3 linked regions of the Homo sapiens genome follow. The protein of the gene in region 2 purifies or fractionates together with the protein of the main gene of each other region. This does not show direct contact. Each region holds a gene or a part of one and is shown on either strand. Other genes may lie near its edges.

Region 1 (10,720 bases), on a different chromosome or scaffold from region 2:
TTTCATAAACTCAAGGAGAACTTAGGTTTCAGCCTAGCCCAGTCAGAATGTCTCACTTATGAATTATTAGTGGTAAATTTCACTGACTAAAGGACTCAATCAGAGTACATAAAAATTAATTCTTTTTTTGTTAAACTTTTTAAAGTCAGAAGTGAGGGTTCGGGAAAAAAAAGGAAAAACATTTCTACTGCTAATTTTATAAAGCTTAAAAATATGACCCAATTACTTGGTATTTGTGATAAAACACTTTTACTCCACCTTCAAAATATATCCGGAAATGAGTTATTTCTCATCTTTTCCTCTGCTATCAATCTGGCCCAAGGCACTATCATCTCTCGCCTGCATTACTACAGTAGCCTCATTACTGGTCTCCTCGCTTCCACCCTTGTCCTCCTACAACCTGTTCTCGAGTTTTCAAAATACAATTTTAGCTGCTGTACTAAGGCAGACCACGTCACTCCTTTGTTCAAAATTGCCAACATTTCTTCCCAGTATCCCTCAGAATAAAAGTCCTTATAAAGACTCCAAGGCCTTTCCCAACCCAGCTGTTATTTCCCTGGCCTCATCTCCTACCCACTCTTCCCCACCCCCGTCCTCCAACCTCCTGCCTCAACAACAGCTACCCTAGCACTGCCTCAGAGCCTTAGCACTTCAAAAGTTTGCTTTGCCTGGAACCACATTCCCCATGTGGCCACACAGCTCAATTCCTCTCCTCCTTCAGGGGTATGTTTAGTTACACCACCTTCAGTGTGTCATTCCCTAATCTCCACGTTGAAAATAACACTCCCTGCCCCTACTCAATTTTTCTCCATACAACTTTTCTGGTATGCTGTATATTCAATAGTTTACTTTTTGTTTACACGCTTTCCATTTGAATGTAATTTCCACAGGGGTGCAGATTTGTCATTTTCTCCCATTGCTATATGCCCTTGAACAAGCACAATGAATATCTGTCAAATTGTAATCTTTTCCAGAAAAATGTATATGGGTTTCGGTAAGTAATACAGTTACTTAACTTTCAACAATCATCTTACTGTATCAAGGTCATGGCAGAAATCAACTAAGCACTCCTCAGCTCGACCAATGAAGGTTTACAAAGAATAAGAAGGCCTGGGTCCTGACCTCTAGGGCTCGACTCAGCAATCCCTCAGACCTGTTTTTAGTCTCCTTTCCCTACCCTACCTGGAACTTTGCATTCCAGCAACACCCACCCGTATGTATTTGCTACTCAGAATTTGTTCTCTCATGTGCATGTGCCTTTGTTCATGCTATCTCTTCTCCTTCAAATGGAATAGCCAAAATTGAACAAGGCAAAGGGAAAGGAGTAATTCAAGTAGCTGAAGTATATGGGGGAATGTGCGGAAACTGCAGAAGAATCTGGAAGGAGGGTGGAATTCAATTACAGCGAGCCCTGAATGCCATATTAAAGCACGTGGCCTGCAGGCAATGGGAGGTCCCTAATGTGAGCAAATGTATAGCTTAGAAAAATAAAGTCATTATAATTAGTAAAACCAAATTGCAACTAATCAGAACTTAGTTAATGAACTAGCTGGTACTTTTAGCATAAAATCTGTTTGCTGCAGATTCTCTGTTCGCTTAAAAGAAAGAGAAACCAGTCTCGAGAATAAATTCTTATCAAGGACTTAGTTTAAAAGTAGGTGGGTATCACAACACACACCCACCACCCACCATTCCTGGAGATACTTGGGACTCCATTCAGGCTAAGACTGGTTTTGTGTACAGTTTCAGGCACAGTGGAAAATGATGCTCAAACCTGTTATAACCACAAAACATTTTCAAAAGGCTTTTACTACTAAAGGCCAAAAGGGGGGTTCTAGTTTAATTAGTGAATATAACTAACCAGGACAGATATTTCCTTGAACATTGTGGTAAATCAAAGTTTTGCTAGATAAGTTTCAAAGTTATACATAAAATATTCAAGAAATCTTTCTACTGATTAGGTTTTGAAGGAAGTAGCTCCAGCGAAATGGAAGTCACTTTGGCATCTGGAATTAGATACAACCAAAGTAATAAAGCCGTTTTATAACAGAAAGAGAAATATTTTCAGGTTGTACTAACTCCAATCTAAACTGAGAAATCTTTAAGTGGAAAAAAAGACTGAACAATCTTTGCCAACAATCTATGAATAAAGTGGAAGATGGCAAATAATTACATACACAACTTAATATTACGTTGAACACTTCATATTTTAATTCTGATTAATAACAAATTCAATCACTTTATTTTTCAATACAGATAGCAAAACTGACCTTTAAGAGTGAAAAATGTATATGATACACACAAACAGAATTGGCTGCTTGACGTGTCAGCTGGACACCTGAGTCCCTGCAAAGCCAGCCTTGGGGGCCTTTTCTTCCTCTACAGTTCTATGGCACTTTTTCAGTACAACCACAGTAATTTGTACAACTCTGTCTTATCTCATGCACAGCAGGCCTATGGTAGGCCTACTAAGGGCAGGAATTCTAAGTATTCCCTACACTTCCAACAGTACCTCATGTAAAGCTGGTTCAGAAAGGAGTTAACACAGAAGGCCAGACTGCTACCCTTAGGGAAGTGGTCTGGGAACTTGGGATTTCCGAGTGTCCCTACCATTTCCTAACTGGTAAGGGTGGTTTACTGGGCCTAAATTGTTTGTGCAAGCAATACGGTTCTTAATGAACACCTGAGCCTGGCGCGGTGGCTGACGCCTGTAATCCCAGCACTTTGAGAGGCCAAGGCGGGCAGATCACAAGGTCAGGAGATCAAGACCATCCTGGCTAACATGGTGAAACTCCGTCTCTACTAAAAAATACAAAAAATTAGCCGGGCATCATGGCGGGCGCCTGTAGTCCCAGCTACTTGGGAGGCTGAGGCAGGAGAATGGCATGAACCCGAGAGGCGGAGCTTGCAGTGAGCCAAGACCAAGCCACTGCACTCCAGCCTGGGCGACAGAGTGAGACTCCGTCTCAAAAAAAAAAAAAAAAAAATGAACACCTGATTTATTTCTGGGAGCTTAGAATTTTGGCAGAGGGTGTCTACATGACCAATCCAATAAAAACTCTGGGCACAGAGTCTTTAATGAGCTTTCCTGGTAGGTTACACATCATACACATCACAACTCAGTGCTAGAGGAATTAAGCGTGTTTGTGGAATAACACTGAGAGAGGACTCGGAAGCTTATACCCAGAGCGCTCCAGTCTGCTGCGGGTACTGCATGCACATCACCCTCTGCTGCTGCTGCTGCTTTGGATCCTTTAGCTGTAATGAATCACTGCCATGACTATGACTACATGATGAGCCCTGTGAGTCATTCTAGGGAATCACCAAACCTGGGAGTGGTCTTGGGGCCCACAACAATAAGTAAATATCATGTGGGTAACTCTCAAATTTATGTCTCCAGAAATCAAGTCTCTACTGAGCTTCAGACTATTTTATCCACCTGCCTATTTGGCATCACTCCTTGGAATATTCACTAGCCACCTCACACTCGGCCTGGCCAAAACAAAACTCGTGATTTCCTCCACCAAATCTTTTCCCCAATCTTCACTTCAGTAAAGGGCACCATCAGTCATTCCTTACATCAAAAACCTAGAAATCGTCTTTGATTTCTCTTTTCACTTACTACCAGCTCCCACTCAACGCCTATAAATCCTATCAGTTTTACACTGGAGAGGTGGGGATCCTCCCACGAAGGAAGCACTCAATAAATGGAAGCTATTAGTATCTTCCCATTGCTTCTGAGTCCTAGGCAATGTCACCTCTAGCCTGCATCACAGCAATATCCTCCAAACTCATGTCCCCGCCCCTCCCTTGGCCTTTACAATCCATCCCTCTACACTAAGCCATTTTTAAAGAGGGATGTTTTAAAAATGTATGTTGGAATATATTGGAATATATCATTCCCCTGGTTAAAACTCTTCAATGACATCCCATGAGAAAAAAATCCTAACTTCCAAGACTTACAGGGTGTATGTGACTGCTGCATGTCCACCTCTCGGACCTCATCTGGATATCACTTTTCCCTTTGTGCACTATATTCTAACCACACCAGCCTTCATTCTGTTTCTCTTAGAAGGCCAAGATGATCTCTGCCTTAAGTTTTTCTTAATAGCTGCTCCCGCTTCGCATGATTACCGCAAATGTCATTTCCTTAGAGGCCTTCCTGAACCACACTACCTGTGAGATCCTACTCTAGAACATCACTCCATTTTACTATGTCCATATTGTCCTGCTCTGAAAGTATCTTGCTCATTTAATTGTCTTTGCCTGCCTTGTTCACTGCTGCTCCCCCCGTGTCTGGATCCATACTTGGCACATAGAAGGCACTCCAATACATGTTGAATGAAAAATGACATGGACAGCTGTCTCCTCACTGGGAAGAAAACAAGGCACTTGTATGAAAAGCAAGTTTGCAGTCTGGTTAATTAAACTGCTATTCAAATCAAATCTATCCTATGAACTTGGCAGCTTTCTCTGACTTGAGAGTTTTTTTTACTGTTTGTTTGTTTTGGGTGTGGAGGTGTCTTTTATCATAAAAATATCCCTCATCAATTTAGTCAACAGTAATGGGTCAACTATCTTTGTTCATCAACTGACCACAGAAAAAGCACACAGAAAGTATATGTTAATTAGGCTACTCCTACTGTGGACGAGCTGCATCACGGTTGAAGCAGAACTGTTGGACTTTCTGTCCCAATAATGGGGTATAAGAAAGGAGATTGGAAACATGGGTATCCTGAATGTAATACCCAAGCAGAATCTTAAAAGAACCAGAATGCAAACAGAAAGGAATTCGGGCTATTTTATTGAGAAGGACCAGGTTTATCTTCCTCACACTGCCACTGAATCTGCCAAGACACCTAAAACCTGGCTAGTTTTTAAGGTGTTCCCAAGAAAAAAGGAATTTTTAACCCTGGTGTTGCCCACCCCCTTTTCCACCCCTTTCTATTTACTTTTTGGTTTCAGGACAGCTAAAGATTACAGATCGTTTGTCTGTTTGTAATTTAGAGACAGGGTCATGCTCTGTTGCTAAACCTGGAGTGCAGTGGTATGATTATAGCTCACTACAGCTTTGAACTCCTGGGCTCAAGCAATCCCCCTGCCTCAGCCTCCCAAGTAGCTAGGACTACAGGTGCACACCACCATGCCTGGCTAATTTTTAAAAAATTTTTTGTAGACACAGGGTCTCACTATGCTGCCCAGGCTGGAATTTTTTAATAACACTGTTATGTTTACTATCCCTACAAGAAATCATTCCAGCCAACTCCCTAGACCAAATCTCTTCCATAATGAGTTAACATTAATTAACTCATTTAACAAATATTTACTGAACGCCTACTGTGTCAGGGCAGACCATAATGTTGCCCAGCTCCTGGGACACCACTTACATGGAGGCTATATAAATGGTATTCCTTCAAGCTACATAACTCAGCAGCTCTGTGCCAGACACTTTACTAGGTGCCTGGAATATAGGAAAAAACAAATGATCCAATGAATGAGCAAATGTGGAACAGGCATTGTACTACATACTTTTAAACATATTGTCTGTCTTTACCCTCACAACTCTTATGAGGGGGAGTGGTATCCTCCCCCTTTAGCCAGTTAGGAAATTTGGGCTCAAAAAGTTAAGTAACACATCCAAGGTCACTCACATAGTGTCTGAGGCAGAGCTACCATCAATTTCTAAGCAACTGTGAACTAAATCTCATCAAAGCAAGAAAATCTGTCTATTTCAGATAGCTCCTCTAGTAGTCTGTTCTAAGCTTACTCTGTTATGAAGATTCAGTATTTTTTTCAAGTTAATAACACATTTTGCTACTTGCGCCCATGTTGATCAAAAGGTGAGCCAGTTATGTAACTTATCCACAAAAACCATCTTTTTCATCTCTAGAAAGCTAGGTGTCATTTCTTTCTCTTGGATTTCTAATTTTATTCCTTCAAACTTTTCAAATCCTGCAATGAAAGCAGGACTTCATTTCTCATTTAAGGCCTTTCACTATATTTTAGACCTAGTAACAATTTATGTTTAACCTACTAGTCTCCCATTCATGTTTCCCAATTCCTTTTGCAAATATCTGTTTATATATTTACTTATAAACATAATATTCTAATGAACGATAGTTTTTCTTTGCTTTTCCTGGGCACCTAATTTAAGCCCACAGAAAGCTTTTGTTTTTACATGAAGTAAAGTAATTTATAAAACTTTTAATCCAATGTATGCTTTCTATGGTATTAGTTGTATGAGTGCCACTCCTCTCTGCCACAAAACACAACAGCACCAGGCTTAATACAATATAGCCAGAGCAAACACCTACTTTCTACACTAATAATTACTATTATTGCAGTTACAGTAATGCCTACTATTTTTAGTAAACTAGACATCTAGAAATCCAGAAGGAAATAAAAAGGAAGGCATTTGGCAATTAATTTCTTGCTATTAAGTTATGTTACTAAAAGGTTCCCTTACTAGTTAGCTTTGTTTTTTGATCATAAGCTGATGAGACAACTCAACCAAACCAAGGAAAATACCATAACCAAGAAATAAATTCAAAAAATGAAAATGAATATATCTAGAAGAAAGATAATGCTAGGCTGAATCTCTCAAATGTATCAGAATGTTTACATGTCTCGATAGTTCTTGAGGGCTCAACAAAACATAAAACCACAATTCGGCCTCCACAACTCTCTGTAAAGTAGGAAGTTGTCAATTTACAAAGGCTATCACAGAAAAGGAAAGAACAAAAAGGTGGGAAAGGCAATGAATTTAAAAACAAATCCAAAAAACAGACAACATACCTGGCAACATGAGAAAAAGCATCCACAAGGACAGATTCAAATTCTCTAGTGAATTCAGGTCCTTTCCTTTTACTGTTTTGGATGACATCATTCGCTAAATACAGAAAAGTAAGCTTTCTATTTGATTTGGCTGAAAAAAAGAAAAGAAAAGAATTTAACTTACACCAAAGAAATTCTCAATTCACAATTCTTTTGCCCTGGGCTGCTCCTAAAAAAACATTAAGACAAGTATTATCTACCTGGGGGGTCAAGTAGATATGTTTAAAAAGACCACCTAAGGAATAGGTTTGGGAATACCATTTCGGAAAAAAAAAAAAGAAAAAGAAAAAGAATGGGCCATCTTCATTGCTGTGTTGTTTAAACCAGGGTAATTAATTGATAGTAAAAATTAAGATAATCCAAAGAGAATTCCTAAAGGATAAGCAGTCAGTGTTAATGTTGAAACTAGGGCTTTTATTTATTCTACTGCAAAAATGAGCAACTTCTAACTCACTTTTAATTATCAAATATTTCAGAATGAAAGACTGAGTTGGCCGGACGCAGTGGCTCATGCCTGTAATCTCAGCACTCTGGGAGGACGAGGTGGGTGGATCATTTGAGGTCAGGAGTTTGAGACCAGCCTGGCCAACATGGTGAAACCCTACCTCTACTAAAGATACAAAAATTAGCCGGGTGTGATGGTGGGCACCTGTAGTCCCAGCTACTCAGGAGGCTGAGGCAGGAGAATCGCTTGAACCCAGGAGGTGGAGGTTGCAGTGAGCCGAGATTGCACTACTGTACTCCAGCTTGGGCAATAGAGCAAGACTCTGTCTCAAAAAAAAAAAAAAAAGACTGAGTTAGGTTTCAATTTTAAAATGGTTTCGCCGAGCGTGGTGGCTCATGCCTGTCATCCCAGCACTTTTGGAGGCCGAGATGGACGGATCACCTGAGGTCGGGAGTTTGAGACCAGCCTGACCAACGTGGAGAAACCCCGTCTCTACTAAAAATACAAAATTTGCCTGGCGTGGTGGCACATGCCTGTAATCCCAGTTACTCAGGAGGCTGAGGTGGGAGAATCGCTTGAATCCGGGAGGTAGAGGTTGTGGTGAGCCTAGATCATGCTGTTGCACTCCAGCCTGGGCAACAAGAGCAAAACTCCGTCTCAAAAAAAAAAAAAAGGTTTCTTGTAATTTTGCTCCTAAACTGAGAATTTCTCTGATACTCCAATAACCATAATCAATAATATAGAAGAATCTCTAGGTGCACCAATAGATATTAGCTCAAATACAAGTATACATTAACACTACACTCTTATTGAAAATTTACACACGTGTGAAATCTAGATATGCAAAATTAGGGCTTTCACAAAAACCATAATTCTCTCTTATTTATATGAAATGTGGTTATTCCCTATTACTCTATATGGTATCATATATTAAACCATAAAAACCTCGTGCAATATGTCTGAGTTACAGTTGCTTTGGGGAACATTACTGAATTCCCTGGCTTCTATGCACATAATTTCTCAACTATAAAGTTACATCCCTACAATTTTTGGTTCCAATTTTCTTTTAAAAGAAATAAATAAGAACATAATTAGATGTTTCAAAACACAAAGTTTTCTCCAATGCTAAAGTACCTGAAAAACACAAGCTCTTTATCAACCTTAACACACCTGAGTAACTCTATTTCTCTCTGAAACCAGTTGTTTCTTTTGAAATGTACAAAGCATTGATATGTCTGACATAGCAGGCATAAGATCTGACATTTTAAAATGTAGCTACAGGAGGCTGGGCACAGTGGCTCACGCCTGTAATCCCAGCACTCCGGGAGGCCAAGGCAGGTGGATCACCTGAGGTCACGAGATCAAGGCCATCCTGGCTAACATGGTGAAACCTTGTCTCTACTAAAAATACAAAAAATTAGCCAGGCGTGGTGGCGGGCGCCTGTAGTCCCAGCTACTCAGGAGGCTGAGGCAGGACAATGGGGTGAGCCCAGGAGGCGGAGCTTGCAGTGAGCCGAGATCACACCACTGCACTCCAGTCTGGGTGACAGAGCAAGACTCTGTCTCAAAAAAAAAAAAAAAAAAAAAAAACAAAACAAAAAAAATCAGCCGGGCGTGGTGCCAGGCGCCTGTAAACCCAGCTACTTGGGAGGCTGAGGCAGGCGAATCACTTGAACCTGGGAGGCGGAGGTTGCAGTGAGCCGAGATCGCGCCAACTGCACTCCCACCTGGGTGACAGAGTAAGAGACTCCGTCTCAAAAAAAAAAAAAAAAATGTAGCTACAGGAGAGTAACCCAAGTTAAAAACATGATTTTAATAGCACATTACAGTTTAAACTGATGAAACTGATGTCTTAAATGCTCATAAAATTAAATATGGATACCCTGAATTGTCTTAACCTTCTGGTAATAACCTAGTTTAGATGGCCAACTGATAAGAATACTAGGAACCTGGAGCTTTCTTCAACTTTCTAATTATTATTCAAAAGCAGAACAAAAGTGTCAGTAGTTACAATATCTACTGTTGCTACAAAGGTATGATTATGGCAAAACGTGCTTTTTTGTTAAAGCAAACCTTGCTCTGCAAAGTTGATGTAAGTGAAACTACTACACCTATAATCCCATGCAAGTTAGCAGATTCGAAAGCAAAACAGAACTTCAACAAAGCAAATTTCATTAAGTGAAGCTTTAAAATTCCATACACTTTATGTTGAAAAAAAAAAAACCTAGAATCCATATTGTAAAATGTCAGTGTGGACATTCAAGACCTGATATATACTTCTCAGTAGACAAACAAGGTATCTAAGGGGCTTGAGACCCAAGGTTTTCACTGTTTACAATGCCAATTAATTTTCATCACCCCAGAACTTAACAATGGGGATTTATTTAGGATAAACTGTATCCCTCCATATTCAACATCCTCAACAGTCAACATAAGCACCATGTGTGTCAAGGTGATATGACAAAACCCTAGAGCTCTTGAGCACACACAGTCACAATACACACAACATGCACACCCCTCCATCCCAATCCTGGGGGACAACTCACTTGTTCAGATGTCCTTCCTATACGACAGAAATAGGTCCTTTCACTCACTACCCATGTCCATTCCAAACTGGTCAAACTAGTTGTTGAGTAAAATTTAAACAACTGGTTAATCAAAACTTTTCACTTGTTTGGCTGGTTTTGACATCTACAGAAAGTCTTAAAGTAATTCTGCAATAAAAGCCCATTACCTACATTCAGGCCAAGATACAAAACACCATTAAAAACATTCATTTAGGAGCACTTTACACCAAAACTAGTCCATAAAGAAGGGGAGACGTTCTACTTAGAACAGAGCTCAAATGGGATAAATTAAAAATTATTCCTAGAAAATGGAAAGACAACACATCAGGAATAGAAGTATTTAAGCAAGAAAAAAAGTTAATTTTTATAAATCTCATATATTTTGAAGGCAACTCAGAGACAGTCTGTGAGCATCTCAGCTACGGAAAATGACTTCACCCTAGGTAGAACCTACAGGGCTAATCAATCTGAACATTAGGGCACAGAATCCTTTTCTTTCAGTGTGGGGGCATTTTCAGTTCATGAAATAAGCCTGGATATTCGGAAGCTAGGTATTGATGCTTGGAAGAGCATCTTTTTTTAACTCTGCACTGTCCAGTAAGTTAGCCACTAGCCACGTGTGGCTATTGGAACACCTGAATTGCAGCTGGTAAAAACTGGAAACTAAATTTTCAATTCTATCTACTTAAAACTTTAGTTCCTTAGTCACACATTTTAAGTGCTCCATAGCCACATATACCAAGCGGCTACCTGTTGGATGGCACAGATAGAAAACATTGCTATTATCACAGAAAATTGTATTAGATAGCGCTGTTTATATCCTTTATGCTGCTATCATAGAAAGTTGTATTGGATAGCGCTGTTTAGATCCTTT
Region 2 (10,720 bases):
TTTACATATATTATAGCACATAATTTATCACAACAATTAAATGAAGTAGATATCGTATTCCTATTCTACATATAAGAAAAGGGAGACTGGAAACTTAAGTAACTCGACCCAAAGTCACACAGATATTAAATGGAGGAGCCATAATTCAAATCCAGATCTGTATGGCTCTGAAGTCTATGCTCATTATCACCAGGTTATGTCTTTCCTTCAAGAGGAATTAAAGATAAAATTGTCATCTTATGTAAATGTGATTTCACTTTAGTTTTAGTGAAAAAAGAAGTGTATTTGTTCACTTGCAGATTAAATCCTCATCTGTCTAAGTTCATGAAGTGATCTGGAATAATCAGCATGTACAGTCATTAAGTAAGCATCAACTGTATAGATGCCTGCTGTCTATCTATGTATCTATCCATCCATCCAGTTAACAACTACTGTGTGCCACACACTGCTGGGCACTGGGAATGATGGTAGCGGGGAACAAAGCAGATAGTAATCAGCAAGGATGTGTAAAAAGTACCCACTGTGTATCCAGCATTTGTTGAGAACAAAGAAATTTAATTACAAGAAAATGGGGCCCTACTAGTGAGGAAACAGTTGTGAGTGTTAAGTTATTTAGGCTATAGTTAAACTAACCATGGATGTTACTTCTTGAAGGGGCAATAGTTACTAATACTGAGATGAAGGAGACCAGAGGTGAGAATGTTGACCGAAGATTCAAATGTCAGGTTGGAAGGTGAATTTGAAGAAGCAAAGAAAAGAGGCAAGAACACAAGAACAGAGGAGAAAGTCCTGTAACAGTCCCACACTTCATTTACAACCACAGTGGCACTGTTGAGCAGTGAGTAAAGGTCAGTGTCTTCACTAAGTTAGGGAAAAAATTTTTTAGGCTTTGTGGGCGCCGAATCCTGTTTCCTGCCTTACTTTTCTCCCTGGCACATATCACTAATACATTGTACTCTATACTAAAGGAAAATAATACTCTGCTATTCCTGGCTTGTATGTCTAATACAATGGAGATGAAAATGCTATCAAACCAACTTCCAATGGTACATTTTCCCAAATTTAAAAAATAAAACTTAAATGAAAAAAAAAAATCAGCTAGAAGATGGAAAAGAACAAAGTAATGGTGATGACCTTGCCCAGGTATACCTGAAAACACTATATTATTATGTAACAATTGTTGAACCTGATATACTGGTTAAAAAACAATGACAAAAATAAAATCAGTAAAAAAACTTCATGGAATAGAATGGATTGCACTATCAGAAATATACTAAAATCAGAAAAGCATATGATGAATTATTAGGAAAAACATTCACAGAAAATGTAATTAACAGTAGAGGCATAATAATACTATTATTCATCAGCAAGAAATGAAGGATGGGTAGAGCTAGGAATTTTAAATGCTATAAATACATGTATTTCAAATCTTAACAGCAAGTTTTCCAATTCTCTGATATTCCCTATGATTCTACCAGAATCTCTCAGATACTCCCAATGGCCAAAAAACATCCAATATCCTACATTTGTTACTACAAGAAATTGTTACTACATGTAGCACTGAAATATTATCTGGGAGTAGCCTAGATACATAATTAGACATTCATTCATTCCATTATTCACTCACTTACTTACTCAGTTAGCCACTCATTCACCCATTCACTGACCTGTTATTCCCCCATTTGGATATTCACTCATTCATTCTTCATTTACTCACCCATCTATTCCTTTACTTATCCCCAGGACAAAAATTATTGAATACACTTAATGTCCAAATCACTAGGGAAGTACTAAAAAACAAAGCATAACCTTTCCCCTGAAGGACAAACAGAATTTTATCAGAGGAAAAGAAGCCTTCTCAGATGGAGGAACAGCACAAGTACAGATAGGACATTTGTTCAGACACTAGTATATTAGAGAAACAGAAATAAAAATCTAGTCGAAACATGGTTTGGGGTCAGGTCATGGTGGGTCAGAAATGCCACTAAGACAGGTCAAGTTTATTTCACGGGCTGATGATCTGACCTTCAGTCACTCACATATCATTTTCATGATTTCTGCTATATCTGCATATTATTATTTAATACTTATTTAAATGCACAAACATTTTTAACTCAATAAAACTTTAAAATCTCATCATGGTAAAGGCTTTATCACTTGACATACACAGGCAATACACACAAATACACATTAAAATAAATATGACAACTAATTATATTAAAACTTGTTTCCCTAAGTACCACTGAAATCATCGCCAACACTTTACACTTGAATCAAAACTGCTCAAGACAGTGAGGATCATTAAGGGTTTTTGAGCAAGAGACATATCTTCATAGCTGAGTCTTATAAAGATCACTCTAAAGAAAGAATGGCAAGTGGATCAGTGGAACTAAAGATGGGGCAGGAGAACCAGCTAGGAGGTTGCTGCAACAATATCCACAAGAGATGATCAGAATCTAAACTAGTGGGGAAAGCAGCAGAGACAGAAGGAGGGGAACACACATAAAAAACAGGAAATGTAGAAGACACAGATTCCCCAAGACTCTGGAACTTGAGGAATATCCCTCTCCTACACCTATCACACCTGTGCACACATAATACACACAGGGAAGCAGAGATCCTCATACATTCATAATCTCTACTGAGGTAGGCAGAATTAGATGAGACAAGGCAGACTTAGATTAGAACTTGCCTGACATGTTTAATAAAAGTTAATTGTTGCTACTACTGCTAACATACTCTTCAAACTTACATCACTTCAATTCAATATTCCAGAGCTGATTTCAACAACTTTCTCCTACAGAGGTATCACAAAAGGATATACTACTGTATAAATTGTATGTTACCCTGGGGGTTGGCTTGATATGAATTCTGGGTTGAGGAGGAAAAGCATTATCCGTGCCCCCCCTACCCACAGCCCAACTGCATCCCACCAAACATACACCATATTCCTAGCCCAGCCCAACTTTCCCCTTTCCCTTACCTTGGCTTATTCTGAGGCAAGGCCTTAGCATCAACTGCAAACATTTTGGAAACAAATATAATAACTGGAGCAGTGTCCTCACTTCCACATTTCATAAAAGCTAAACAAATAGGAAGTAAAAATGTCACTATTTTTCCCATTATTAAAAAAAAAAAACAGATTTTTCTGGAAAACAATTAAAATGTTTAGAACATGGATGGCATCATCAAAATACACCAGAAGTCCATAACTTTTTCCAACTATGATAAAAATTTTAATTAGAAAAGGGTAAGATTGCTAGGAAAGAATAGCAGAGCAAGAGCAAACAGTTGGCAGAAATAAGAAAAGAAAAGCAAGCAAATTTGACAGGGTGAGGGATCTCATATGAAAGCTAAAGCTATGCAATGAGGTTAACCACCTACCATAAGCACTAATACATTTTTCACTGTATCAAGTATAGAAAATAGAATTGAGGAATGTTACCAAAGGCCAACAATCAACAAGGTAGCTTGTTAATAAGATACATAAAAATCAATAGCTTTCCCAATCCCCCACAATAACAAGTTAGAAAATAAAATGGACAAAAATACTGTATTATGATATTAACAAATTCTTAGAAATAAATTAAGATTCAATACTATTAAGATACCAATTCTCCCTAAATACACAAATTTTAATGCAATTTCATATTAACATATGAACATTTTCCTTAACCTATACTGGAGGTAAAAAAACATTGATTAATGAATTTTTTTAAAACAATTCCATCACCTCACGTTAAAATAATTTATATATAAAGAATTCAACAGTAAAATACAAACAAGAAAAAAGAAAACCACAGGAAGTAAGAATCAAACATGTATCAGAAGTCTTGCCAGTGGAAGCTTTGAATGAGGAACAGAATGACATGCCCTGATTTATATCTTAAGAGGATCACTCTGTTTTGTCTGCAATAGTTGAGAAAACACTAACAGGAATCAAGAGCAGAAGCAGGGATACTAGTTGTTTCATTGTTGTTGTTGTTGTTTGTTTGTTTGTTTTTTCAGATGGAGTCTTGTTCCGTCGCCCAGGCTGGAGTGCAGTGGCGTTATCTCGGCTCACTGCAACCTCCGCCTCCCAGGTTCAAGCGATCCTCCTGCCTCAGCCTCCCGAGTAGCAGGGACTACAAGCGTGTACCACCACGCCCAGTTAGTTTTTGTATTTTTAGTAGAGACGGAGTTTCACCATGTTGGCCAGGAAGTGAAAACATTGGGAAATAGTTGAATTCTGTATTTCAAAGGAAGAATAAACAGGATTTGCTGATGGACTGGATGTTGGAGTGTGAGATAAATATAAGGGCCATAGATGACTCCAAGGTTTTTGGACTGAGTAAATGAAAAGATTGAGGTCTCCCTAACTGAGATGGGAATGACTAGGTGAGCAGGCTTGGGGATAAGATAAAAAGTCCAGTTGGGGATATGTTCAGTTGAGATGCTTCTTAGACAACACAGTGTAGAGGGAGTTCTAGATATCAGTCCAGAGTCCAGAAAACAGACATGCTCTGAAGACACATAATCGTGGGAATTATGAGTATGTAGCTGTCATTTAAAGTCTTGAGATTGGGTACAATTATCAAAAGAGGGACTACAGATAAAACAGATGAGGATCAAAGACTTGAACCTTGCTTGAGGCACCCCAAAGTTAAAAAGCCAGGGAGATGGGGAGGAATCACAAAAAGAGATATTAAGGATAAGCAGCCAGGGAGACACGAAGAAAAGCAGAAGCAAGGGAATGAAAGCAATGGAAGCCTAAAAGTCAAGGGACGAAAGTGTTTCAAGGAGGAGTGATCAATTGCGTCAAATGCTAGTGACAGATCTAGTCCTGTGAAGACTGAAAACTGGCCATTAGATTTAATGAACCGAAAGTCAATAGTGATGCCAAGAATAACAGTGTAGTGGTTTGGGGGCAGGGTTACAAAACCAATAGAACTGGAGGAAAAGAATTAGAGATAAGAAAATACGTGGAGACAAATTTCATGGAACCTACAAAGCCCAGAATGGGAGCTTCTTTTCTCACGAGGAGCATGTGTACAAGTCGCTGGTCTCACCCTACTGCCTGAGCAAAATGGCTGTAACAAGAAAACCTTTGGGGTGAGGGTGGGAGGCAAAACTGGTGAAATGGTCATTTGTGAAACTGTTCATCTGTGGAAGTGGACATTTGGCAAATTGGCCATTTAGCAAACTAGCGTTCAGCAAACTGGTCTAGAGCAGCCTGGATGGAGGACAGTCAATGACATGGTATATTCCAACAGGTCCATCTTTCCTCACCTGCTTTCAGTGCTTGAGTTTCTGGTGGAAAAGAGTCAAAAGTTTGTGATCCTGTGCACATCAGTCTCTCCACTCTCTCAGCTGTAATATCAAGGGGACTAGGAAGTTTCTGACACACCATAGCTGAAGTCTATTGTTAAGGACTGAAAACCTTGAGCCAGTGCCTCCCACCAAGGCGAAGATTCACTGTATGCACTAAATATTGAGGTAACAAAGTCTGTCCATACAGAAAATGCCTGTGCTACAAGGCAACACTGCTTTATGCATCACATCTCAAAACATGCATACAATTTCAGGGAGTTCACAAACTCCTTAAAGCTCAGAAAGGATCCTCATGACAGATACTTTAACACTGAGGCCCATGAAACAAATGAGAACAGAGCTTAGCAGGTTGGCTACAGGTGACCTTGAAATGAAACAGTTATCTAACACAAACATCTAAATCATCTACTTATATTTGAATCTTAGTGTAAACATTTTTATTTTTATAGATTACTAAACAAACACAAAAAGAATAGTCTTCCTAAAGAAGTTCACTATTAGTAATGTTAACACAAATTAGTATTAGTGTATTAATTATCAAAGTATTTAATACAGTTTCATGGTAGAACACTAAATAAGCAGAGAAGACTTATTTTGGATTGAATGTTATTTCCAGAGAATTTCTTGGTTACCATAACGCATTGTTTTTTCTAGCTTTATCAAAACTATTTCATTAAAAACCATTAGAATAAAGGATACCAAGAACAGCATGGGATATGGGTAGCCACTGACTGCAAATGGCGTTGATCTGAACTTTAGGGTCTGAATGTCGTGCCTCCCGGGCTCCAATTTTTAATCCTAAAGAAGTCACTATTTTATCAATTTTGTCTTTGTCCCTGTGGTAAACACAAGATTGGAGAGGGGAAATGTCATATGCAGATATAAACAGGCAGTGGAACCCAACATTATTTGGCATATTTTTACCCTAATGTGTTACTTTTTCAAAAAAAGCTAAAAATGATTGAAGGGAATCCTGCCGCCACACAAGGGGCCTCCCCAACCTCTACTCTTACACTTTCAAGTGAATCCTTCTTTAAGATTTCCCAGGAAGTACTTCTCCACCATCTCCTCAAGCAAGCTATACCAAGTGGTAAAGCAGTCTTACAAATAAGTGCTAACAAGTCATTATTCCATCTCAGGAATAACTTAGAAAGCAAATTTACTAAAGCAAACTTATACCAGAAAAGTTATTTCTCAACTTCCCCATTAATGATCCTAGCTATCAAGCACCTTTTCTACTTTAATAACTATTTTTTAAAAGTGGGTTTGCATAAACAAAGACCCAATGTTTCTTTCTATCCTTTCATCTCTTCTCCTCAGCACTCTATAAAATATTGCTATCCTGTCCCTCCAACATCACCCTTTAGCTGGGTTACATAGGCTTCTTTAAATTGCTTCCAAGCCCTGTAATCAACTCATCTGTAGAAGCTCTGTTCATTTTCTCAGAAAATCTCAGCTTTCTGAAATATGACTCATCAAACTGGAAAGTGAGACAAATTATACTGCCTAAAGATGCCTAAAGGTAAACAATAAGAGTCTTACTTTTTCAAAACAGCATCATACAAACTCCATATATTTTCCAGGATCAACTGTACAAATAAAGGTTTCTTTCCTTTGGCCTGTACAAAAGAACATACGGGCTTAAGTTCCTGAACATTTAATAGGCATTTATATATTCCTTCTTGACATGCTTTTATTATCAATATGTTTCATTTCTACTTGAAAATATTTATTCAAAAATAAAGTAGATGAAAGTAGTTATAAGAATGCACTAAACAGTCAATAATCCACAATCAATAATAATCCACTGTTCTTTCCTCTGGGAACCATAGACTTTACAAGTGATATGACCATTTGTGGGTCATATTACCATGGCTGCCATCAAACAAATACACACAGCACACAAGCCAAGAGCTAAAACTTCACTCTGCACATGCGGGCTCTTTCCATGGACTTCAGTCTAAAATTATGTTACAAGAAACATAAAGCATTCTTAAACATATTTCTAAAGGTTCACAAGGATAGGAAAATTTTGAAAACCCAAAAAACCCCATCATTACTCTTAACAAACTATGCAAAAAGTTAATAGCAAGAGCACCTTGAGGGGTATACTCTTCCATACACGAGATGGGATATATTAATAAATTGATACCTCCTTTCTGAAGAACTACTGGCAACAGTATTAAGAAATTAAAAGTCATTGGCTTAGAATGCTCAGTTTTAAAAAAAAGCATCATGAAGACATAAAACTTATGCACAAAGATGTCTATCATAACTCTACAATATCAAAACATTTGAAAAAACTATGTCCAATCTTAAGAGAATGATTCATAAATGATAGTGCTCTCACAAAATAAAATAACAGGGTGCTTACTGAATTATTTCATAGAATCATAACTATCCTATGAGATAAGTGCTATTATCTCAATTTTACAGATGAAATAACTGAGATAAAAGTCATAGAGCCAATAAGTGGTGGAGCCAAAATTCAAACACAGAGTCAACTCTCAAGGCATGCTCTTTCCCACTTAGCTATATTCACTCCCTTTAAAATATATTGTTTATAAAAAAGCTTTTAATGGCAAGGGAAGATGTTCATGATATGACAAAAGCAAAAGGGCAGCTACGTTGTATAAACAGCATATCTCAACTGAGGGATGTATATATCTATGTAAAAAGGATGAAAGAAATTATAAACATCTACTAGCAGTGCTGGCTTTGATTTTTTTGTTTACTGTGGCTTTATACTTGTGAATATTTTCTCAAAGCAATGTATATGATTTTCAATGAGAATAAATTTATGAAATCCTGGTTTTAACATTAAAAACACAAAGCTCCAAGAAAAGTATCCTTTGAGGGTATATGACAGCATTCCTACACCACCTCTATCTATAGAAGGGGTTTCAGGGAGCACCCACCTCTCCCGATCTACACTGCACGATGACCAGCATGCAGTGAGATAAGGCCTCAGCTGACACTAGAAAGACAGTGTGAACCATACAGGGATGTCTAGAAGAGACATCTCTTTATGGTGACAGGGACAAACAAATGCACAGCACAAAATGTGTGTCTTCAGGTGCCCAAGATCTAAGATTTTTGGTCTTCTGAAAAAAAAAGAAAAGAAAGAAAAGAAAAGGCAGTTCTTTGCTCACTATACTTAAAAGGACTAAGAATTCTGTATGAATAATACCTGTATATGGACTTGTAAGCCTTTCCCAATTATATACAGTAAAAAATCCCTCATGAACTCACCTGCATAAATTAAAGCTGAATTACATTTATTAAAGATATTACAGTATAGGTTTTCATAGGGCAAGAATATGACCAACAACCAAAAGGGACATATACCACATTACCTGATCACCCTTCATGATCTTTTTAGCCTTCATATTTATATAGTAATCTCCCCACAAGGTTTTCATAAGAACTTCCTTTTTGATGCCAATTTTTTGACTGTAGATTCTGGCGAAGTGCTCAATTCTGAAAGAAGACCAAATGTTCATGTTATTAATAACAACGATTATTGATTTCTGTGACAGGTACTGTTCAAACTTCTTTACACGTGTATTACTAAACTTAATCCAGTATCCTACAAAATTTCCTCATTTTACAGAAAAGGGTAATGAAGCAGAGATATCACACAGGGAACAAGTGAGGTGGGGATTTAAATCCAAGCGGTCTGGCTCCAAAGCCCATGTTCAGGTCTACACCAATATGAATTGTACTACATGCTATAGCTTTCTTTCTTAATTTTGCAGGTGTAAAACAAGATAAAATTAGGGACAAGAAAATGCAAGCTCCAGCTGCCTGTCACAACTATGCCAACAATAAAATTTTATTTCAGCTACTCACTGCTGTTAAGTGACAGCTGCTCACAAATGAAAGAAATTCTTGAGCCACAACCTGCCAAAACAAGATTTTTATTATCCTAGATTAATGGTAAACATACACACACTGACTTAACTCGCATCAACCCACAGAGAAAAACCACTTACCACCGTGGTCTCCAGTCACAGGAAGACAGTCAATCAACAACTAAGGGTCCTATATACAGCATCTGCATTGTCTGGATAAAGGACCTAAGAAATACCTTTTCTTTAGAGAACAATCTAGTTTAAGGTTTGAGATTAGAATTTTCAAAGTACCAGCATCTTAAAAGATGCCTGCTCAGGAAAAAAAAAAAGGATATCCCCAGTTTTTTCCACACCATACTGAAAGCCCAACCTAATGCAATCGCACAAGAAAAGGAAATAAAGGGTATACTGATTAGAAAAGAAGAAATAAAACTATCTTTGTTCACACGTGACTCTTTAATCACTCTTCCACAAATGAAGACAAGGTGAAAGGCTGAAATCCACTGGTAGAGTTCCTATGCCTCAAAAAGAAAGCAGGCTCTGCCTTGCTGCCTACTCTGTGGATCCCTAAAAAGATTCAGGCCTCCTCCTGGCTTCCGGTGTTTCAGCACACCCAGAACGGCACACAGAGCCTTACTTCCAGATGTTAAGTCAGGATACCCTTATCTCTGTGGCTTTTCATTTATAAATACCCAGTTTTGCTAGGCAGGCTGCAACCTGCCATGCAGATTTGCAAATCCAATTCAGGACCTACAGGCAGGTCCAAGGTCCACATATGGAAAGAAACAATAGGAGGCAACCACTGTGGACTGACTTCCCAGGCACTCTCCAACCTAACCTTAGAAGGGAGCCCTATTTGTTAGTAGTGATGCTCCCTGGGGCCTCAATAATACAGCTGAAGCTTTGCTCTCCATATTGGCGACTTGGGTCTATTCTTAGATGGTTAAAACCAGAGATAATGACTGAGCGATGAATACATGAAACCTGTGACATTTTCTTTCTTTTAAATTTGAATTATTTTTTCACCTGATATAGGACCAATTTTTGTATATCCTTCACTGACACTTAAATTCTGACTTTAATTATTCTATTCATATGGTTCATGTTCCTGTCTACTAACCTGTGAAAATCGCCCCCAAACCATGTGCCTACAGAGTTCTACTTATAGTTCTATTTTTGCCTCATGCACTTTGTTGTTATGATAATTGATAGTTAATCTCTTCACTAGTAAATGTGTCAATTATCTATATGAAAATGATCCTTATGCCATAATTCATTTACCATAAATCCTATTTTATTGTTAATATTGCCAAACCTCTCTTTTCATTCACATTTGGTTGACATAATCTGAGCTAAAGCTTTGGTATTTAGCCTCTGTCCATTATGCTTTAAGTTTATCTCTTTTATGTAGCAAACTTATGGATTTATTTTTTTAATAAAATTTCCTTTCTAAAAAATATCTCCTTAGTAGGGGATTTCATACATTTATTGGTATAATCATTTATTGGTACAACTGTTTTGATCAGTTAGATTTCTGGTGTGGTTTCTATTCTTCC
Region 3 (10,720 bases), on a different chromosome or scaffold from region 2:
GAGAATGTGGGCGAAAGAGAAATAGGAGCTCTTCACGCCACAGAGCTTGAAAGTATTCCACAGTGGAGACTCCAGAGACAAATCCACCAAAGGCAGTGTGTGGTCGGTGTTTGTACAGACCAACACACAAAATGAGGTAGACAGGAAGACAGCAGCCTTCACAGTAAAACCGCTTTCACTAGAGAAAATAAGGATGTATTCTAACACTGCCATTTAGCCAAAAGTAAGTTTGTTCTTTCTGCTTCCTAAGAGCAAAAACAGGAATCACACATGTATATATTTTATCAATTTTATTGAAATATTCCAAGGATCCCAACCCCATTTAAAAATAAAAATTGTAAAGCACTCCATTCAATAAAAGCACATAAGTCCCCCTCAATAATTAGTATGACAATTCACGATACAGCTCTTACTCTGGGAGAGTTTATTTTACCCTTTATTCCAAAAGGCACAAAGTCATCTGAGGCCTCAGATATTAACCCCACTGCATGTTAATGACACACCACTGAGGTGCAGCTCAATGTAATTATTAAAGCTTATAACACACTTCCCCAAGAATTTATAGATTCTTTCTATAAATAATAATTTAAAAAATACTGCACCTTAAGACCAATACAGGCTTAACAAAAGACCTGAAATTTCTGCAAGGGCAGTTTTGTTTCTTGATAGAAGTACAACTTTTGAAAGTCTATTCCCAGCAAAAGAAACACTAGACCCAGCTTGGCCAAAGAAACAAAATAAAACAAGTGATTTCTAACACGCTAAAAGAGTACATTTTCATCAGCTCCAAAGAAAGCAGTCCTGGTCATTCAGAAGGCTCCTATGATCCCACCAGTCTGCAGTCATTAGAAATATATGCTTTACAGGCCACAGGCTGCTCTGGATTTGGTTTCAGACACCAGTGACCAGAAGAAGCCAGTTTTGCGTGTGAGGGGTGTGGGCCCCCGCTGCCTTGGGCCTGCTCACCGGGGTGGATGGACCCCCGCCGGGTCACAGCCTGCTGTCACGTCTGGACTGTTGGCCTCTTCTGCATCTGGGCTGTTGGGCTCTCCTGCTCTCTGTCCCTCAGTCACGTCATTGTCTGGCTGTCCGGTGCTGGCTGCACTCTCATTTGTGAGGATAACCCCTTCCTTCTTCTTTTCTCCCAATACCTCCAGCCCCATCATCCTGAGATAATGAAGCCGTTCATTCTTGGGCACAAAAGTTCGAATGGAGGCCTTTCCCCGCCATCCGCATAAGACGATGGGACACTGCAGAGCGTCTGGATTCCTACAAGTGAAAGTGGCTTCATGTAGAACATTAAACATTCCCATAACTAAATCGAATGAGATGTAATATGCAACTGCTTAAAAAAGAAAACCACAGAAAACCCATACCCACAAAACCCCCAAAACTACTGGGAGGACATTTCATCTGGATCCGAGGGGTAGGTTTTCTCAAAGGACTTCCTTCTTCATGTCCTGAGTAAAATTCTCACCCTCGCTTTCGCCCTGCCTCTTTAAGTTCACAATGGAGTAGAGGCCCCAAATCTACAGATTTCACATACACTTTCTACATACTTCCTTCTCAAACTTAACTTACTGTCCCCGCCACCCCGTGTCACCTCACCCCACTAAATGAGAAGCGTTTCTCCACAGGCTCCCTGCAGCTCACCTCAAGTTTCCTAAGTGGACTGAAGCTCCTGAGAGGCTGGGAGACTCTGCCCTTAGCAGGGCGTCAGAGCAGGACCCAGGACCACCGGGAGACTCTGCCCTTAGCAGGGCTGCCAGAGCAGAACCCAGGACCACTCATCCTTTTGATACTCAGTGTTAGCGTGATTTCTTCTCCAGGGACCCCACATGGCAGTCTGAGCCCTGCTGGGCACACAGTGCTCATTTCCGTTCCCAGCATGCAGTGTTACCCACAGTCAAAAACATCCCTGCCTCTCTGAACATGCTCCGAGCCTCCCTACCTTCCAGGCTCCACCTGTCCAGCCAGGAGGCATCGACGCCCCAGCAGAGATGGACGCCACCATTTCCAACCTGCACACGCCCTCTCTCAACTTATCTGATTTCTTTCATACGGGACTCTGACCTAGATTTTAGGCTCCTAACGGCCGTGTTTAATCACCTTTCCATTTTTCCTAATGTAAAGCAGGGGCACAAAGGTGGTTTTAAGAAGTGAGAGGAAAATATAAGAAATTCCCAACTCCCATCTTCTTAAAAAAAAAAAACCATTATTCCTGAAGTTGACCTGTCACCTGTGTATTTCACCAAGTAGAAACAAGTGTTTAAATATGGAAAAGTGAATCCACACCTTAAAATATCCCAATATTTTCTATGTGGGCCACATGGGACTGTTATTTTAAAAACCATTTCTGAGTCTTTGTTCAAACTCTCGTTAAAAACACCCAGAAGCCATCAATCACTAGATGCTCCTGCCCGTTCACCATCCAGACACCATCCGCCTCCAGCAGGTCCCCAGGGTGCTCATGCGCTCGGCCTCGCTGACCTCTCCAGCCCATCCATCTGTTGTTCCCTCACCAAGTTCCTGCCCCTCCCACCTCAGCCCCCACCTGTCCTCTCTCCACATGGCAGCCGGACAGCCTGAACCCTGAGGACATGTGGCCCCTCGGCCTCCCTGCCAACCTCTTACCTATCCCTCCTCCTTCCCTACTTGGCTGGGCCCGCCCCGACCCCCAGCTTGCACCTGCCTCAGGATCTGCGCTTTGGTGGTTCCTTCAAGTTAGCACTGGATCCCTGGTCCAACACTAACTTCCCAAAGAAATCTGTACAGTGGTTCTACCTATTCACTCCCCCAAATCCCAGTCAGCCGTGGACCCCATTCTGTTTCCTCCTCTCAGAAATGGTGTTGCATGTCACCAAGACGGAGCTGTTGCAGGTGAGATCCGAATTCTGCCACTCGTGAGCTGAGGAGCTCTGGGCAAGCCACCTAACTTTCTGTCCCGGCTTCCTCCTCTGGCAAGTGCTGCCAAAACCAGCACCTGCTCCCCCAAGGCCCCCCACAAGGATGCAGCGTGAATACATGCAAGCAGCGTGGAGCAGTGGTCCCGTGGGGACCGTGAGTGCAAGCGTGAGCAAATCCCATGCTCCGGCCCTAGCACTCCTGATGCAGTAACATGTCAGCAACACACATGGCTGAACCAGCCATGAGGACAAAAGAACGGAACCTCACTCAACTGTCCAATCTTCACACTTACTCTGTACAAGACAGAAATTTTCATTGGTTTCTAATGCTTAAAAAATAAGTACTATGCATTTTATTCTCTGTAAGTAAAAATTCACTTAGCCTGAGCTGAGTGTTCTATGAAACAGCATCTTCATGATGACCTACAGGAATATTTTGGTTCTGAAGTTTTCACAAGGCTACTTCTGAGGAACAATCACAAAAGGCCTGAAGAAGGTTCCCACCTTCCCAAGTCACTTTCCTCACCAACGAGAACACTGTAGCTAATGACAAGGCGTGTGTGTCTAAGGGCAGGGCGTGTACTGACTTACGCAGAATCTGGTTCATACTTCAGCACGATGCTTCCCTTTGCTGGAAAAGAAACAGACACACATTTGCCAGGTTTTCCAGGTAGTGGATGCATGCGCTGAGCACATTTCTGCACCTAGTGATGTGTTAAGTATTCTGAAGAAAGAAAACAACAAATAATCTACATTCTTGGCTTCAAGGATCTAGATGGTGAAAAGAGGCCGTCTGGATACATGAACCAAGTCCAAATGACGCAGTAGGGACGATCTGGAAGAGGACCCAGGCAAAAGCCATTCAGGGACTTCAAGGGATGTCACCTGACAATCCACTCTGAGAAGCAAGGAGGCTGGGGATTAACTGCTGGTTAATTCTTCAAAATTCAAAATTAAATAAACTATAACACCAACTCCCAGAATGGCATGAAATACATAAAAATTGTCTAAAACAATACTGCAATCATCTAAGTGCAGGATTAAAAGAAAACCAGTATAAACAGGTCCTTTATCCTTTACAAGAATCTCTACTTTAAATTGTGGTTCTTGCCTGGAGACGGCAGTGGGAGACAGACTCCACAGAGCATGTTTTATATCCCAAAGGAACCACACGAGTAAGTTTTAAACGCAAGTAAGAAACGTAACTGCAAGAAGTGATTCACGTACTTTTGATCAAATTGAGCCAAAAATATTAAACAGCAAGTTATTTAAAAAAATAAACAAGAATGAAGACAACAGAAAGAAAATTAGAACAGCTTGGAGAAATGATTTTTATGCTTAGGGGAAAACGTCACTGGAGTGATCTGAAGTGGAAGTTGATGAAATATAAAAGCAGCAATATGACCAATAATCTACTCCAGCTGGCTAGCAGAAAAGTCAGAACTGCTGGCAAGACTCTTATTTTGCTCTAACACAGGTGATTAAAATCTGCATGTTAGCCAGTCTCGTGAGGCTGTGTACCTTAAAAAACAAATTTACTGGCTGGGCGCGGTGGCCCACGCCTGTAATCCCAGCACTTTGGGAGGCTGAGACAGGCAGATCACAAGGTCAGGAGATTGAGACCATCCTGGCTAACACGGTGAAACCCCGTCTCTACTAAAAATACAAAAAATTAGCTGGGCGTGGTGGCGGGTGCTTGTAGTCCCAGCTACTTGGGAGGCTGGGGCAGGAGAATGGCTGAACCTGGGAGGCGGAGCTTGCAGTGAGCCGAGATCGTGCCACTGTACTCCAGCCTGGGTGACAGAGCGAGACTCTGTCTCAAAACAAAAAAAGAAAAAAACAAATTTGCTCATGCACAGAGACCTGCTTCCACCCACCCCCGACCTGCTGACAGGCAAGTGGGTCAAGAGCTCTGGCTGGGAGGCTTGCCAGGGCTGCTCACAGGCTGACCCCTCCTCTCCCCGGACTCTCTGGCCCAGCAAGGTGAGCAAAGGCCAGCCCTGCACGCCACACAGACACACCACAGGCTGCTGGGCAGCAGCAGGGCACCACCAGAGCCTGGGGAAGTACACCAACCCCAAGATGCCTTTGACCCTTAGCATTCTGAACTGTCAATCAGGGATCTACAGAACCCTCTGGAAATTGATGTAGCCATAAATAAACTGAAAACTATGATTGATAAATATGCCCCAACGCACACCACCTGCATTTTTGCTGGCCTTATAAAGGGAATACAAGTTATGTCTCTATGCATTTCCAACTACTCACCCAGGTCCTTTGCTTGACTGTAGGTCTCACTGCTGAGTTTTCTAAAAAAGGGATTTTCCTGGGTCAACAGTATCTTAACATCTTCCATTGATACAGTAATAATTCTTGAGTTAATAAATGGATACAATGTATATATTCCCTGTGTGAATAAAGAGAATGAGAGAACAGATACCATGATGTCATTCATGAACGACAACAGCCTGCTCTCAGGGGCTATGCTCTTAGCGGCTATGGTGGTCGAGCCCTCACTATGGCCCCTCCCCTTGGACAGGTGTGGAACCCACCCCCCCCTAGGAGGGGAAACCAGCACTCTGGGAGAGCTCTATAACCTGTGAGGGTCAAGTGGCTGGTAGGTGCCAGCCAAGCCCTGAGCCACTCAGACCATCTGGCTGACCAGCAAGCCCATCTACTCCCGACTGCTTCAGTCATCTGTGGCTACTGCTGTTCAAATCCACTTCCAAAATTACCTCCTGTGCCAGCCGGAAAGCACAGTCAAACTCTTCACCGCTGTTATTTCTACACCAGACTTTGATCCCCGTGTTAATAACCTGTAAGTAAAAAAATAAGATGAAACACAGAGAGATGAAGACAGGACCATCTCCTGTAAGGATGCCGGGCCACATGGAGCAACCGTCACGGAATGGGAAAGGAGAGGAGAAGCAGAAACCCACCGAGAAACCCCGGTTAAGAACGAACTGATACTCACAACTTGTGATTACGTCGTTTGGAGGACAGTAAAGCAAATGAAAGAAGGGCCCCCAAATGGCCAAATTCTAAGGGAAGTACCTCAAAGGACAAATCCCAAGGGTCGGGGCAGCAGTACTCGCAGCCTCTACACCTTTAGTACCTTCTCTGCCCAGGAGGGCGAGCTGTGAGAACTACACCATGGCTCACCCCCCTGCGGGAATGGGGCACAGAAAAGACACAGGCCACCAGATTCAGGACTCTGGCAGGAACCATTCAGCCCTGTGTCAGTCAACAGCTCTGAAATCAAAGGGCAGGCTCAGGGACCCACAGCCAGCGCTACAGGTGGGGAGGGCAGATGTCACGGTCTGCTCCAAATGAAATCTAAGCCGCTGTGAAAAGCCACACGCATCCCGCATCACACAGCACTCAGCGTCTGTGCGGCTGGCACCTTCATCTTCTCACTGTTATTCAGCAGCACATTCCGCAACTCCTTAGAAACCATGTAGAGCTGCCTTTTCTTCCCTTCTGTAGTCCGAGTTAACAAATTCATCCTTGGGAATGAAGGATCCAAAGCATAAAATTTCCTGTACATAACAACATTGTTGTTTATCCACAATGAGTTCAAAATCTGGTAGACTGTTTCTAAACATCTTATTCTCCTCCTCCAGAATTCAATCCCCAAAACTGCAGTGTGGTTCAAGGGCACTGGGCTCTGCTCTGGACTCCAGCTTCTAAACTTCATCCACTTCCACCTGAAACCTCCACGTAACATTTATTTGGGGCACAACTCCATCAGAAACCTAAATTAACAAGTGCAGCTTCTCTCCCTCAGCCGCTACTCCAATGATAATGACCTGATAACACTACTTTTGAGACTTTTTTTTTTTTTTTGATATGGAGTCTTGCTCTGTCTTCCAAGCTGGAGTGCAGTGGCGCAGTCTCAGCTCACTGCAACCTCTGCCTCCCGGGTTGAAGCGGTTCTCCTGCCTCAGCCTGAGTAGCTGTGATTATAGGTGCACGCCACCACACCTAATTTTTTTTTGTATTTTTAGTAAAGACGGGGTTTCACCACATTGGTCAGACTGGTCTCAAACTCCTAACCTCATGATCTGCCTGCCTCAGCCTCCCCAAGTGCTGGGATGTGCCCGGCTGAGACTTATTTTTTAATAGACTTTTACAAATGTATGCAAAGGACCAGTTATTAAAAAAGACAGTAAGTGACCGCCCTGGTAAATAGATTCTAAAATTCAATGAATAAGAAACAGATGAATGTCAGACTTGTCCTAAACCCTTTTCCTCTATATTCTGTCTATGTCATCCCTAATTAGCCCTCACCCATGCTGCTCTTCATTTCTTCTACAGAAACTGAACTAGACAACCTTGGCTACTCGTCTATATACTCAATTGAGTAATTTAGGTTCAGGATCACAACTAATTTAGATTCATAATCACAGTCCAGTTTTCTTTTGTTTTTTTTGAGACGGAGTCTCGCTCTGTCGCCCAGGCTGGAGTGCAGCGGCGCGATCTCGGCTCACTGCAAGCTCCACCTCCCAGGTTCACGCCATTCTCCTGCCTCAGCCTCCAGAGTAGCTGGGACTACAGGTGCCCGCCACCACGCCCGGCTAATTTTTTTTGTATTTTTAGTAGAGACGGGGTTTCACCGTGTCAGCCAGGATGGTCTCAATCTCCTGACCTCGTGCTCCGCCCGTCTCGGCCTCCCAAAGTGCTGGGATTACAGCCGTGAGCCACCGCGCCCGGTCCAGTTTTTTTTTATCTATCATGTTCACAAAGTAAAAGTTTACTTTCTCCTTAAATTAAAAGATTGAGTAACCTCTAAAGTTTCATCCTGCTCTAATATGCAGTTAAAAAGGTTAAAAAAAAAAAAAAAGCTAGACAGAACTACATACAAAACAATGGTTACATGTGATCAGTTGTACATTTGATACTCTATAGTAAATTTCTTTAAATGAATAATTAAAAAGGCTGAATCCTTACTCAATAGGTGGAAATAATGGGTCATCTTCAGGAATAAATACAAATGGATCTTCTTTAAATCCAAATAACTTCATTTTCTTTGATGGAGGAGGACTAAAAAGGGAATCAGGATGAGACAAATCAATCTGTAATGTGTGGTAACCTTCAATACCAAAAGCACATTCTTCCTTTCTGTCAGTTCTGTGCAACATGGAACGGTTTGCGGCAGATGTTGAAACCTTCCGGCTTCCACAGAGTCCAGCCCTCACACTGCATGTGCCTGATACCACACATGTACTGCCCCCTCAAACCGACCAAGAAGTGGCTCTGGGATCCCATTTAATCCAAAAGGACTGTGAAGACACCAGCGTATTAGATCAAGACATAACCACTTTTCTTACCCACACACGCCATCTTTCTTACTGCCATTATTCTCTAAATCCTCAGTTGCATGAGCTATTTCTGTGTCACCAGTTCCTGTGAATGACGGACTTTCCAGCTTAGAGGGATCTGTGGGTTTCCCTTCTGTGAGATCTGCAGGGCTCAGCTGTGTGCTTTCTCTGGTCTCTGCAGATTTACCCTGAAGCTGTCATAAAGAACAATTTCATTGACACACAAAGAGGAGCATTCTTTGTGCTGCTACGAAAAGTTAAAAATACCACGTTCACAAAATCCATCAGTTATATTTTTCTACAGCATTATATGTAGAGAAAGACAACAGAATTTTTTTAAAGTGTCATTTTAAATCTACTTGCTATTATAAACAAAATTCATGGACAGTTTCTTTGGAGTTAAAGCTGATTCTACCTTAATCCCACAAAGAGCATATACAGCCTGTTCCTTAGCAGAGGCCTACACCACCAGCTTGTTCTCGTGTAAAAATGCTTATCGTGCATCTGCTCTGGGTAAGGCACACTGAAGGACACAAAGTGCACCAAGCACGATTTCTAAAATACCCGGCAGGGGCAAAAAGACAAGTATATAAATAACGAGAAAGGAGGGTATGAATTGTTCTTGGGCACCTGGACAAACTGCCACAGGAACTGGGAGAAAGAGAGAGTGCCCCAGGCACCAAGGAAACACCTGCCAAAGAATGAACTTCTGAATTAGGGCCATGGTATAATTTAAATTTGGCTTTGGGAATGAGCAAAATGTTTTACTTAAAGATCTTTAAAAAATACATGTCCTTTTTAACATTTTAACAGGTCACAAAATTGATAAAAGTCGTAATTCCTCAGTCCCTATGAAGTAAGTTTAAAAATTAGGATATTTCAACACAGGCAAGTTCATTTTACTCAGAGCCACAAAGCTACTGAGCAGAGAAGCCGGGAGCATCCCAGGGAACACCTTTTATTTCCATGTTAATATAATGTAAAAAAGCAAAAACCAAAACAGATGAACCCCAAGCCTGTGAGCAAGTCAGTGAGGGCACACGCCCTTCCTGTCCAACCTCAGCTTCCCCCAGAGGGGCCTTCTTGTTGAGTCCAGCTCCAAGGGCATGTTCTCCCATCTCTGTTCTACCTCAACAACCTCATTCTGGGACCTTCAAATACCAAGGTCAGTGTGAGCTTCCCTGGCCTAACTTCTAGCCAAGTGCTTACAGGCCTCAGCACCACAACAGAACACGGCATCCTGACCATGGAGACTCTACCTGCGTTCCCAGTAGGACCAACAGCAGCACAGGCCATGCTAGCACTAGATCTGTTGAACTAAGTGAATAAGAAACTGACATAGTAACAGAAAGAGAGAAGTATTCATATTATTTAAACGAGAAAATGACAATAAGTTGTTCTAAAAAGTAAGACTATACATAAGGGGCTAATTGAAAAAATGTCAAAACCTTTCTATGTAAGTATTAACACGTCAGAAACATCAATGTAAGCCCTAATGCAGGCCAACCTAAAGCACGCGTCTCTAAGACAGGCTCCTCTGTGACTGCACTGTGCTCTGCAGCTGGGCAGCCACAAGCCTGTGGTCACTGACCACTTAAAATGTGACAAGCGCAAAGTCTAAAACACAAGCTACTGAAACCTAGTATGAATGAATGCAAAGTATCTAATACTTTACAATATAATTTCTTATACTGATTCCATGAAAATAACATTCCATCAGCGTTAAGATACCTTGTGAGACTTTTAGCCTCAAAGTGAAATACTTTCTAACCTGACAGAAAAACCCTGGTGGCGGCAGAAGTGCAGTCGCCCCCTTTGCCCGTCTGAGGCTGTACGTTCCAACGTTAAACTGCACAAACCGTGCCCCAGAAAAAGGCTGGAGCTCTTTGCGGAACTGTTTCCTTTTTGTTCCTCCAAAGCTAAGCGTTTTTTGTCCTAATTTTCAAGCATGGATCTTAAAGAAATACAGACTTCCAGACTTTGATTCCAGGCCAGGTTCTTTCATCATGGAAGGCTGATTTATGAACTAATAAATAATGCTGGCGTGATACAGGTGAGACAGCACGCATTACAAAGGACTGCGTGTTAGGATGAGGGCAACACTCCTTCACCACTGTTTCCTGGCCTGCCTTGGAAAGGAACCAGCAGGCAGTTTAGATCCATAGCAAACAGGCCGGGCTGCATCTTTCTAGCCAGGTCTGGACAAGGCCGTCATCATTCCTTGCAGCCAAGGTGAACCCGGGCTGGCTTGGGGTCAGCAGAGCTCTGCTATCTGTAATTGGTGAAATGAACCACTCACAAGGAACTAGAGCACAGAAACCTGGGGCTTCCAATTGAGAGCCACAGAGCAATCTTTCATGTCTTTTCAATTTTTATTAAATAACTGGATTTACAGTGTGGCAGGAATACATTCCCCCAAACACTGACTTCTCCACTTACCTATCACCTATGAGAAATTTCTGCTTTTTGGAAAACTTGATATTTAAATGAAAT

Evidence for each region.
Region 1: the proteins of EFL1 (region 2) and RPRD1B fractionate together in Homo sapiens (co-fractionation; 2 studies listed by BioGRID). This does not show direct contact.
Region 3: the proteins of EFL1 (region 2) and NSUN2 fractionate together in Homo sapiens (co-fractionation; 2 studies listed by BioGRID). This does not show direct contact.

What each region holds. Positions count from the first base shown.
Region 1 is NC_000020.11:38,036,640-38,047,359, reverse strand, and holds part of RPRD1B (regulation of nuclear pre-mRNA domain-containing protein 1B), read right to left. Parts: intron 9,902-10,720; exon of another isoform or gene 9,253-9,901; intron 6,926-9,252; coding exon 6,796-6,925; intron 1-6,795. UniProt on the Homo sapiens protein: Interacts with phosphorylated C-terminal heptapeptide repeat domain (CTD) of the largest RNA polymerase II subunit POLR2A, and participates in dephosphorylation of the CTD by RPAP2. Transcriptional regulator which enhances expression of CCND1.
Region 2 is NC_000015.10:82,222,182-82,232,901, forward strand, and holds part of EFL1 (elongation factor-like GTPase 1), read right to left. Parts: intron 8,791-10,720; coding exon 8,667-8,790; intron 6,930-8,666; coding exon 6,853-6,929; intron 6,147-6,852; coding exon 6,010-6,146; intron 5,392-6,009; coding exon 5,269-5,391; intron 3,084-5,268; coding exon 2,984-3,083; intron 1-2,983. UniProt on the Homo sapiens protein: GTPase involved in the biogenesis of the 60S ribosomal subunit and translational activation of ribosomes.
Region 3 is NC_000005.10:6,598,964-6,609,683, forward strand, and holds the end of NSUN2 (RNA cytosine C(5)-methyltransferase NSUN2), read right to left. Parts: intron 8,422-10,720; coding exon 8,237-8,421; intron 7,950-8,236; coding exon 7,857-7,949; intron 6,446-7,856; coding exon 6,310-6,445; intron 5,723-6,309; coding exon 5,642-5,722; intron 5,314-5,641; coding exon 5,175-5,313; intron 3,538-5,174; coding exon 3,498-3,537; intron 1,270-3,497; coding exon 963-1,269; 3' UTR 276-962; downstream 1-275. UniProt on the Homo sapiens protein: RNA cytosine C(5)-methyltransferase that methylates cytosine to 5-methylcytosine (m5C) in various RNAs, such as tRNAs, mRNAs and some long non-coding RNAs (lncRNAs).